Regions from separate parts of the Homo sapiens genome. Here region 2 is linked to region 1. A link means that fine-mapping ties the variant in region 1 to the expression of a gene that starts in the linked region. Tissue or cell type: whole blood. Region 1 holds a variant in brackets; the other region holds the start of a gene. All regions are shown on one strand. Distances are from middle to middle.

What was found. PIP is the estimated chance that this variant, and not a neighbour inherited with it, causes the effect.
Region 2: it holds the start of ADARB2, and the variant in region 1 is fine-mapped to the expression of ADARB2 in whole blood (TOPMed, PIP above 0.99). The same link has a PIP of 0.9 or more in spleen.

The regions. Positions count from the first base shown.
Region 1 is chr10:1,259,813-1,265,072 of GRCh38, reverse strand. The region is part of intron 4 of ADARB2 (adenosine deaminase RNA specific B2 (inactive)); the gene reads left to right. Among named protein-coding and RNA genes, the nearest start is that of LINC00200, 100 kb to the right of the region's middle. The variant G/A (reference allele first, on the strand shown) is at 2,688.
Region 2 is chr10:1,734,721-1,739,980 of GRCh38, reverse strand. ADARB2 (adenosine deaminase RNA specific B2 (inactive)) reads left to right here and starts at 2,456. Exons shown (of 10, transcript NM_018702.4): 1 at 2,456-2,930. The coding sequence starts at 2,831. RefSeq lists a silencer at 2,507-2,566 and an enhancer at 2,528-3,124.

The DNA.
Region 1 (5,260 bases):
GGAAGCAGGCATCAAGGCCCGGTGGTGACCATGCATTACCTCTTTATGGGAAATTATTTTTCGAGTTTATTAATAACTAGAAAAAAGGAGTTTTCTAGAGTACATTAGGGGGTCATGTTTAAATTTTTGCTAGTCTAGCCTACAAAACATATTCTGAAAATATGGCTTTTATAAATATTCTTTCCCATTTAAACTAAGGTCCAGCTTTATCGCTCCACAATTTTCTTGGACTGACTTACAACTGCCCTGGAAAAATGCACATTTCTTGAAAACAGCCTGGTAGAGTTCAACTTTGTAAAAACAGCCCAGGACAACTAGGAAACCCTTCTGAGGGAAGTGGTCCGGCCTCTCTTATTAGGAAAAATACAAAAGTGCCAATTAATTCCACGATGGAGCATAAGTTTTCCAAGTTTTGAAATGTAGACTATGTTTTGCTGCATATGCTTGGCTTTGAACCTAAAATGAGCACATAAGGTAAAGAAATGTGTCCGTACTGTCTGTGCCACGCTTTCGGCTTGAATAAAGAATTGTGTTATTGTGTTGTACCAGATAAAGCTGGTTATCAAACATGATTTTCCCATTTGCACTTTAGAAACCATGACAGTTTAAATACAGTTAAAACTTCTCTTTCCATCATACAAAGAGCATCTGTGTAAGTTCATCTTCACAAGGACCTAAGAGAAGCGGAGTATAAGGAGTTTATTCCCCCAATTTTTCAAAACCTTTCCTTCCGTTGTCTCCCCTGAATGACTGGCAGTCACTTTGATCTTAAAATTAAAAGCAAGGTCTTTTTATTTGCATCCAGTCGGGCATGAGGAAGATAAGCTGAAACAAATGAACTGGACAAAAATCCCTAAACAGAAACCTCATGCTGCGATGAAAGATGGTGAATTATCATCTGTATTTCAAGGAATTGATCTTAATGATTACTAAGTGGATACCGAGAAATGTGAAGCTGATGCTGTGTCTCTGTGGGTCTGTTCAGGCACATTAAGATTCACGGAGGCCGACGGCTGAGTACAATAAGGAGCGCTGATGGGCAATTGATTTTAAATCTTTGGTTTAAACTGTTAGGTTTAAACTATAAAATGCAGGACAGATTTCACTAAACCGGTGCTGACCCTTGCGTAGTGTGAATGCTGACACATTTCTACTAAACATCCCTCCTCAAAATGGAGAGGAAAAGAAAATCAATGACTGGACATTTGTTCCACCCGAACATTTAAATAGTTTAGCCTGGCTCATTTAAATAGTTTAGCCTGGAATAATTCACAGGGTGCGGATGAAAACCCTCAAGGCTGAATTAACTAAGGAGAGGACTGGCAGCCCTGGCCGTGAGTTAAATCCTCACCAAATGCCTTCATTTATCCCAAGTAAGGAAATGGGTAGATGGAAATACATGAGAAATGGAGGAGAAAATAAATATTTTTGCTACACTCTCAAGGTCTAGTACTCCAATCAAAGCTGTTCAAACACTTCTTCACTTTTCTGATTATTAACTCATAACTGAGCATTCAATTCTATCTTCAATCTAATTGTCCAAAAGGCTTCACCAGGAAAAGAAAATCCAACGCCATATTATATCTCAAAGCAACACAACTAAACTCATTTTATTCTGGTCTCTTTGACTATGAGTCTTTTTTTACTGGAAGCATAACACTAACTTTGTTGGTGAAAAAATAAAGGACACTAGCATCCAGTGTTTACCTGCATGCCAGGCAATGTTTGGGGTGTGTAAAGCCACATTCTCCTATTATTCAACAAGCTAAAATATTCTTTATTATTACTATTATTATACTTTAAGTTTTAGGGTACATGTGCACAACGTGCAGGTTTGTTACATATGTATACATGTGCCATGTTGGTGTGCTGCACCCAGTAACTCATCATTTAGCATTAGGTATATCTCCTAATGCTATCCCTCCCCCCTCCCCCCACCCCACAACAGGCCCCGGTGTGTGATGTTCCCCTTCCTGTGTCCATGTGATCTCATTGTTCAATTCCCACCTATGAGTGAGAACATGCAGTGTTTGGTTTTTTGTCCTTGTGATAGTTTGCTGAGAATGATGGTTTCCAGTTTCATCCATGTCCCTACAAAGGACATAGACTTATCATTTTTTATGGCTGCATAGTATTCCATGGTGTACATGTGCCACATTTTCTTAAACCAGTCTATCATTGTTGGACATATGGCTTGGTTCCAAGTCTTTGCTATTGTGAATAGTGCCAAAATAAACATATGTGTGCATATGTCTTTACAGCAGCATGATTTATAATCCTTTGGGTATATACCCAGTAATGGGATGACTGGGTCAAATGGTATTTCTAGTTCTAGATCCCTGAGGAATCGCCACACTGACTTCCACAATGGTTGAACTAGTTTACAGTCCCACCAACAGGGTAAAAGTGTTCCTATTTCTCCACATCCTCTCCAGCACCTGTTGTTTCCTGACTTTTTAATGATCACCATTCTAACTGGTGTGAGATGGTATCTGTGGTTTTGATTTGTATTTCTCTGATAGCCAGTGATGATGAGCATTTTTTTGTGTGTTTTTTGGCTGCATAAATGTCTTCTTTTGAGAAGTGTCTGTTCATACCTTCGCCCACTTTTTCATGGGGTTGTTTGATTTTTCTTGTAAATTTGTTTGAGTTCATTGTAGATTCTGGATATTAGCCCTTTGTCACAT[G/A]AGTGGGTTGCAAAAATTTTCTCCCATTCTGTAGGCTGCCTGTTCACTCTGATGGTGGTTTCTTTTATTATTATTATTATTATTATTATTATTATTATACTTTAAGTTTTAGGGTACATGTGCACATTGTGCAGGTTAGTTACATATGCATACATGTGCCATGCTGGTGTACTGCACCCACTAACTCGTCATCTAGCATTAGGTATATCTCCCAATGCTATCCCTCCCCCCTCCCCCCACCCCACCACAGTCCCCAGAGTGTGATATTCCCCTTCCTGTGTCCATGGGATCTCATTGTTCAATTCCCACCTATGAGTGAGAATATGCGGTGTTTGGTTGTTTGTTCTTGCGATAGTTTACTGAGAATGATGATTTCCAATTTCATCCATGTCCCTACAAAGGACATGAACTCATCATTTTTTATGGCTGCATAGTATTCCATGGTGTATATGTGCCACATTTTCTTAATCCAGTCTATCATTGTTGGACATTTGGCTTGGTTCCAAGTCTTTGCTATTGTGAATAATGCCACAATAAACATACGTGTGCATGTGTCTTTATAGCAGCAAGATTTATAGTCCTTTGGGTATATACCCAGTAATGGAATGGCTGGGTCAAATGGTATTTCTAGTTCTAGATCCCTGAGGAATCGCCACACTGACTTCCACAATGGTTGAACTAGTTGACAGTCCCACCAACAGTGTAAAAGTGTTCCTATTTCTCCACATCCTCTCCAGCACCTGTTGTTTCCTGACTTTTTAATGATTGCCTGGTGTGAGATGGTATCTCATTGTGGTTTTGATTTGCATTTCTCTGATGGCCAGTGATAATGAGCATTTTTTCATGTGTCTTTTGGCTGCATAAATGTCTTCTTTTGAGAAGTGTCTGTTCATGTCCTTTGCCCACTTTTTTATGGGGTTGTTTTTTTCTTGTAAATTTGTTTGAGTTCATTGTAGATTCTGGGTATTAGCCCTTTGTCAGATGAGTAGGTTGCGAAAATTTTCTCCCATTTTGTAGGTTGCCTGTTCACTCTGATGGTAGTTTCTTTTGCTGTGCAGAAGCTCTTTAGTTTAATTAGATCCCATTTGTCAATTTTGTCTTTTGTTGCCATTGCTGTTGGTGTTTTGGACATGAAGTCCTTGCCCATGCCTATGTCCTGAATGGTGATGCCCAGGTTTTCTTCTAGGGTTTTTATGGTTTTAGGTCTAACGTTTAAGTCTTTAATCCATCTTGAATTGATTTTTGTATAAGGTGTAAGGAAGGGATCCAGTTTCAGCTTTCTACATATGGCTAGCCAGTTTTCCCAGCACCATTTATTAAATAGGGAATCCTTTCCCCATTGCTTGTTTTTCTCAGGTTTGTCAAAGATCAGATAGTTGTAGATATGCGGCGTTATTTCTGAGGGCTCTGTTCTGTTCCATTGATCTATATCTCTGTTTTGGTACCAGTACCATGCTGTTTTGGTTACTGTAGCCTTGTAATATAGTTTGAAGTCAGGTAGTGTGATGCCTCCAGCTTTGTTCTTTTGGCTTAGGATTGACTTGGTGATGCGGGCTCTTTTTTGGTTCCATATGAACTTTAAAGTAGTTTTTTCCAATTCTGTGAAGAAAGTCATTGGTAGCTTGATGGGGATGGCATTGAATCTGTAAATTACCTTGGGCAGTATGGCCATTTTCACAATATTGATTCTTCCTACCCATGAGCATGGAATGTTCTTCCATTTGTTTGTATCCTCTTTTATTTCCTTGATCAGTGGTTTGTATTTCTCCTTGAAGAGGTCCTTCACATCCCTTATAAGTTGGATTCCTAGGTATTTTATTGTCTTTGAAGCAATTGTGAATGGGAGTTCACTCATGATTTGGCTCTCTGTTCGTCTGTTATTGGTGTATAAGAATGCTTGTGATTTTTGTACATTGATTTTATATCCTGAGACTTTGCTGAAGTTGCTTATCAGCTTAAGGAGATTTTGGGCTGAGACAATGGGGTTTTCTAGATATACAATCATGTCGTCTGCAAACAGGGACAATTTGACTTCCTCTTTTCCTAACTGAATGCCCTTTATTTCCTTCTCCTGCCTGATTGCCCTGGCCAAAACTTCCAACACTATGTTGAATAGGAGTGGTGAGAGAGGGCATCCCTGTCTTGTGCCAGTTTTCAAAGGGAATGCTTCCAGTTTTTGTCCATTCAGTATGATATTGGCTGTGGGTTTGTCATAGATAGCTCTTATTATTTTCAGATACGTCCCATCAATAACTAATTTATTGAGGTTTTTTTAGCATGAAGGGTTGTTTAATTTTGTCAAAGGCCTTTTCTGCATCTATTGAGATAATCATGTGGTTTTTGCCTTTGGTTCTGTTTATATGCTGGATTACATTTATTGATTTTCGTATGTTGAACCAGCCTTGCATCCCAGGGATGAAGCCCACTTGATCATGGTGGATGAGCTTTTTGATGTGTTGCTGGATTCGGTTTGCCCATATTTTATTGAGGATTTTTGCATCAATGCTCATCAAGGATATTGGTCTAAAATTCTCTTTTTTTGTTGTGTCTCTGCCAGGCTTTGGTATCAGGAT
Region 2 (5,260 bases), 470 kb before region 1:
TGGCTCCTGCTCCTGAAGCCTCTTCCAACTGCTGCTCATCCCACCACGTTGCAAAGCTGCGCTGAGGCACTGTGGGAAACAGGCAGGAGGTGAGGAGGCTCATCGGGGAATGGCAGCTTACCAGCACTGCTCACTCGCAGCCCTGCTTGCAACAGCAGAGTGAGACGTGCTGGAAACCACGCTGGAGTTAACGCACTTGTCGCTGCGAGCCTCTTCTTTAAAGCCCCTCTGTGATGAGAAACAAAGGCTTTCTCGCCTAGCCGTCGCCCTAGCATCATCTATTATGCATCGTCTTATGCAAAATAAATAAAATACAGAAAACAGCAAGTATCTGTGAAAACAGCATTTTCATAAATTATACAAAAAAGAACCAATTGGAGGAACTTCAAGAAAAAGGTTTGCCAAAATTTCGATCGTAACTTTCAAATTAGGGTCTAAATGAAGTGTTCAAAGACAGTTTTCAGTTTTGTTTCCCCACTCCACCAACATCAGAAGAACATTTAACAGACACGTTACTTTCCGGCCACCATACCTGCCCTTGGAGTGAAACAAGGGTTCATGTATACGAGTCTCCCAGACAGCACGGTTGCTCCGTGTGATGATGGAGCTATTGGGGCCATTAATAAATGCTGACCACCTTGTGGGGGCTGTGTGTGTGTGTGAAGCTCTTCTGAAGCACCTTCCTTCGGTGACTCCACCCCCTGATGGGTTTTCTGCAGATACAGAAATAGGGCAACTCTGGATTAGTGCAGCACATTGTGTGAAGCTCAGAAGTTTCACAGGCAGAGTCCTAGAGCTGTGTTTCTCGATATAGTTTAAGCACTCAAATATCTCGGGTATTGCAGAGAGGAAGTGAGAGAGCTATGTGCCTTCTCAACCCTCGCTGGGAATTATCAGCAGAGCTGAGCTGTGCTGTCATGGGAACAGGGTTGTTGAAGCCAGCCCTGAAGAGGGATGTTGGTTTGATTGTGGTCCTCAGTCTGAGTTGGACTAGAAGGTTCAACATTCTAAAAGGAAAACGCAGAAGCCCTGTCTTTCTGAGGCTTGTCTGCAACATACGCTCATTCCTTCCAAATTATTTGCTGGAAAAAATTTAATAAATAATCATAGAGTAATTAACATGTTCCAGTTCCTGTCTATACTGGTTGATACTGATTCAACGAGTATGAATGAACTTATGAGGTGGGTGACGTTGTTATCCCCAGTTTACAGATGAGGAAACTGAGGCACGGTTTAACTTACCCGAGGTCATAGCAGTAGAGTTAAGATTTGAAATCAAATGTCTTACTCTCTCTCATCAATGAAAACTGAGCTACGATCTATCAGCTCAGCACATAACAACACAGGATCATCCTAATTATTTCCAATGTCCCCCAGAGTGATTCTTTTTTCTTATGATAAAAATTATCTGGAAATTTCTAGGCACATAAGCAGCTGAAAAGGTTGCATGTGAGGCAATGAATAGCAGAAATATTTGTGTGCCATTTTTATATCAACATGTTAATGTGTGCTAATGAATTTTAGAGTGGATTTTTTTAAAAACATGACTATTGTAATTAAAAGCTTATGTGATTTAAATACAAGATGCAATGATGATTACCAGATTCTATTCCTCTTTATATTTTACATAAGACTTCCAGGGTTCCATAAGTATAATCTTGAAACATAGGACATTCCTGGAAAAAAAAATTGCTTAAAACTATTTCAGTGTGCAATCCACCTCTTTGTAAATGTTACTTTCTTCCATCCAAATATTACATTTGGCAACAAAACTCTCCGCTGAGAGCTTTCTCTTCCTTTTGTGTCATTGTTCCCTAAATAAAGCAACACATGAAATTCCTGACGGCAAAAATCAGACTCAGATCCCAAAACCTCTGTCTTTATGCAAGATTTATCTTTTGCATTGGAAACGGCCAAGGAATATGAAGAGGGGAAAGAAGAGGCAAACAGACAAGCATGCAGGCTCTGAGGAATAAATGCCCCTCAGGACGCTGTCTCCTGGGGAATTGCAAACCTCAGTCCGTTTCTGAGGAAGTGCGGTCTCTGCATTTCTGAAAGAGGTATTTCCCCCCCTTGACACAAGGAGCATGGTAATGAATTGACTAGTTAAAAACTGTTGGTTGGAAAAACCCGTCCCTGTGTCTTTCTGAGCAGGGCGAGCTGAGCTGTCCGCGAGGCTGCGGCAGGAGGCCTCGTCCTCCCGGGCAGGGTCCCTCCTGGAGGCTCCCCCGGTCTCTCCCAGACGCACCCGCGCCGCGTCCTTGTTCCCCGGGAGCAGCCTCCCTCCAGCCGCCGGTCCTGGGAGCTTCACCGTCCAAACGGGAGCTGAGTTTGCAAGCGGCCAGGCGGCGGTGCGGCTGGTGCTGCTGCTGATGTCAGAGCCAGAAAGCAGTTGTGATTGGATCTAATTAGACGCTGCTGCAGCAAATAGACAAGCTCCCTGCGTGATTGGCTTCAAAGTGGCTGGTGCCAAACAACTAGCAGAGGCGCAAAAGTAGCCTCCCTGCGCTGGGAGCCCAGAGCAGGAGGCAGAGCCCGCGGGAAGCTCGGAGCACTCAGGACGCCGCGCGCCCTTCCCCGCCCTCCCTGACCAGGGAGCAGCTCGCTCCAGGCGCCCAGCCGAGGCCCCCAGCCCAGTGGGAGCAAGTCATAGAGAACAATTCGAGAGACAGAGAGACGGAGCGCGCTTTCCTGCTCAGTCCTGAAAAGTGAGCCGCTCCCGGGTTTGCAACCTCAAGCTTCGCAGCAGCGGCGGCGGCGGCTGCCGGGAAGGAGGCAGGTGCAGGTGCAGGAGGGAGGCGGCTCTGGGCTCCGCGCCTGGGTCTCGGCCATGGCCTCGGTCCTGGGGAGCGGCAGAGGGTCTGGAGGGCTGAGCAGTCAACTCAAATGCAAGTCCAAGAGGAGGAGGAGGCGGAGGTCCAAGCGGAAAGGTAAGGACCGCGTGGCGCGCCGGCCCCTGCCCCCCTTCACCCCCGGCTTCTCCACCCCGGCCTCTCATGGGGTCTCCGGGCTTGTCCGTTGTGAGCAGCTTCACTTTGGGGTGCTGGCGGGATGGCTGCTCCGTGCAGGGCGCTCGGGAGTTCAGATCCCGTGGAAATGTCTGGGGCCTCCTCTTGCCCAGAGGGGACAGTGAGCAGCCACGCTGCGACATGTTTGAGGGACCCGGACGAAGTGGGGCGAGGGCGGCGAGGAGCTCCCCGGGGACCCCGCGCGTCTCCGGGCCCCGCAGTCCCCAGTGGCCGGCCGGGCTGGCACTGCCTTCCACCCTCCGGAGGCCATCTCGTCTCCCAGTGCCAAAGGAATTACCCAAAAACGGGGGAACGAGCCCTCGCGCCAGCTACTCCCATCCAAACTGTCCCGGAGGAAGGGATAGGCGAAGCCCTGCGATCGCCTCTCCAAATTGGCTGGCAGTTTTTACTCAATGTGGTGCCCGTCGATTTGTAAACATTGGGTCGTAAAGAGAACACAGGGCTCGTCCTTGGAGAAATAAGCAGAAATGAATACAGGAAAACAGAAAGAAGCATCATATTTTGTTAGTGGTAGAAAAAAACCGCAAACCAGGAAAGCAGGAAAAGCAGCCGGCTGACAGCGGCCACTGACAAACTCAGCTGTGCCTTGTTACTGATATTCCTGGGGCTGGGCCGCGCTGAAGTTAGTCAATGCTACAGCAAGGGAGGGCTTTCACACTGGGGATTTTGCAAAATTAGCAATCGCTCCAATATGAGAGCAATGCCCCCAGTGCCATCGTAGCCTGTGTGCATGCCAGGAAGAATTAAAAGATTCTTCTCATGCCGACCCTTCTCTCCTAGAGGAACCTGTGTTATTGTCAGTTCCTAGTGAGCCTGCAGGAGAAAGTTCAGTTCTAATCATGATTTGAAATGTGCTGATTTTTTTTAAGTGAGGTAGAAGTATAAAGAACGGTTGGAAAAACACAGCTAGAATTGATCAGCTTTGCCAGTTGTTTGAAAGCAGGAGGCAACGTTAGGTGTGTTTGGGGTTGTCCATCTTTCCTGAAGAATTTTCATCTTTGCATTGGCCTAAGATAAGTTTCTACCAGACCGTTTCCTGTGTGCCCTCGAACCGTCACCAGGTCCTTTATTGCCTCTTCCAATAATAGAAATTATCCAGACAGTCAGCAGGCATAAATGTCAATAGCAAACAGTCATTCATTATGACCGAACGTCAGGACCACTGGGAGGGATTGGCCCCCACAACTTCCTCAAAAGGTTTTGGAGCCTTTGGTTTCAGAAGGGAGGTGATGTTGTGGTTCTCATTTACCTCTCAGCTGCTAAGTGTGCGCTTGCGATTCACTTTGTTGTTTGAAATTATCATTTTGAAACAGACCTGTTAGTGTCCTCCAAAGATAATGCCAACACAAAGTGGCATTGATATTGAGAAAGTCACCGGATTGAATAATGAATATGACTTTTAAAAGAGGAAAAAGGAAGCATCATCTTTACACTTGAAATGTTCACATTTCCCAATATTTTTTGATTAGTCTATTTAAATATTTAGAGTTGAAGAATGTGGAGTAATAGTTCGCAATAATGCATTTTATAAATATAAACAGGAGGAAAGTGTTGCCTTTCTCCAAATTCACTTGCCTTGCCAGGAAGCGTCAGTCATGCTAGCTTAGAAAGTATTCAATTTAGGGGGAAAAAGGAAATCTGGGGAAAGACTTCATTTGCTATAAACTTAACTTTAGCAATTCAAAATAAAACTCCTATAGCAAATATTTCCATACCTTGGTTATTTTGAATATGTCAAGTCCCTTAATTTTCATAGCCAAAAATTGAAGCGGGAAAGGGCATTCAGGTTTTGTACACTGATTTCTGTTACGAAGAGATTTCTGGCGTGCGGGAGAATTTCCCAGGGCACCTGCCGGCAGCTATCTTGATAGGAAAGTCAAATCAAACGGCTAAAGATTCAATTTTTGGGGAAACGTTAACCATGTAGATGTAACTGATCAAATTAAAAGGTAAAGTAACCAGCTAAGAGACACATTAAATAATTATTTGCATTTTCCTGGGAATTGATTACTTCATCTATGATACCTAGTTATTACAGATGCTGATATTTTTTATTTTATAAAAACAATGGTGAGTTTAAATTATGTTCTAATTGTCATGAATCTTAACAACCATAAATGAATAGAATAACCTCAATTTTAAGCTTATCTGATATTAAAACTCTATACTTGCCACAATTTAAAATCCACGTGTGTATGAGAGACTGTTAAGGAATTTAGTGTGGCTCTATT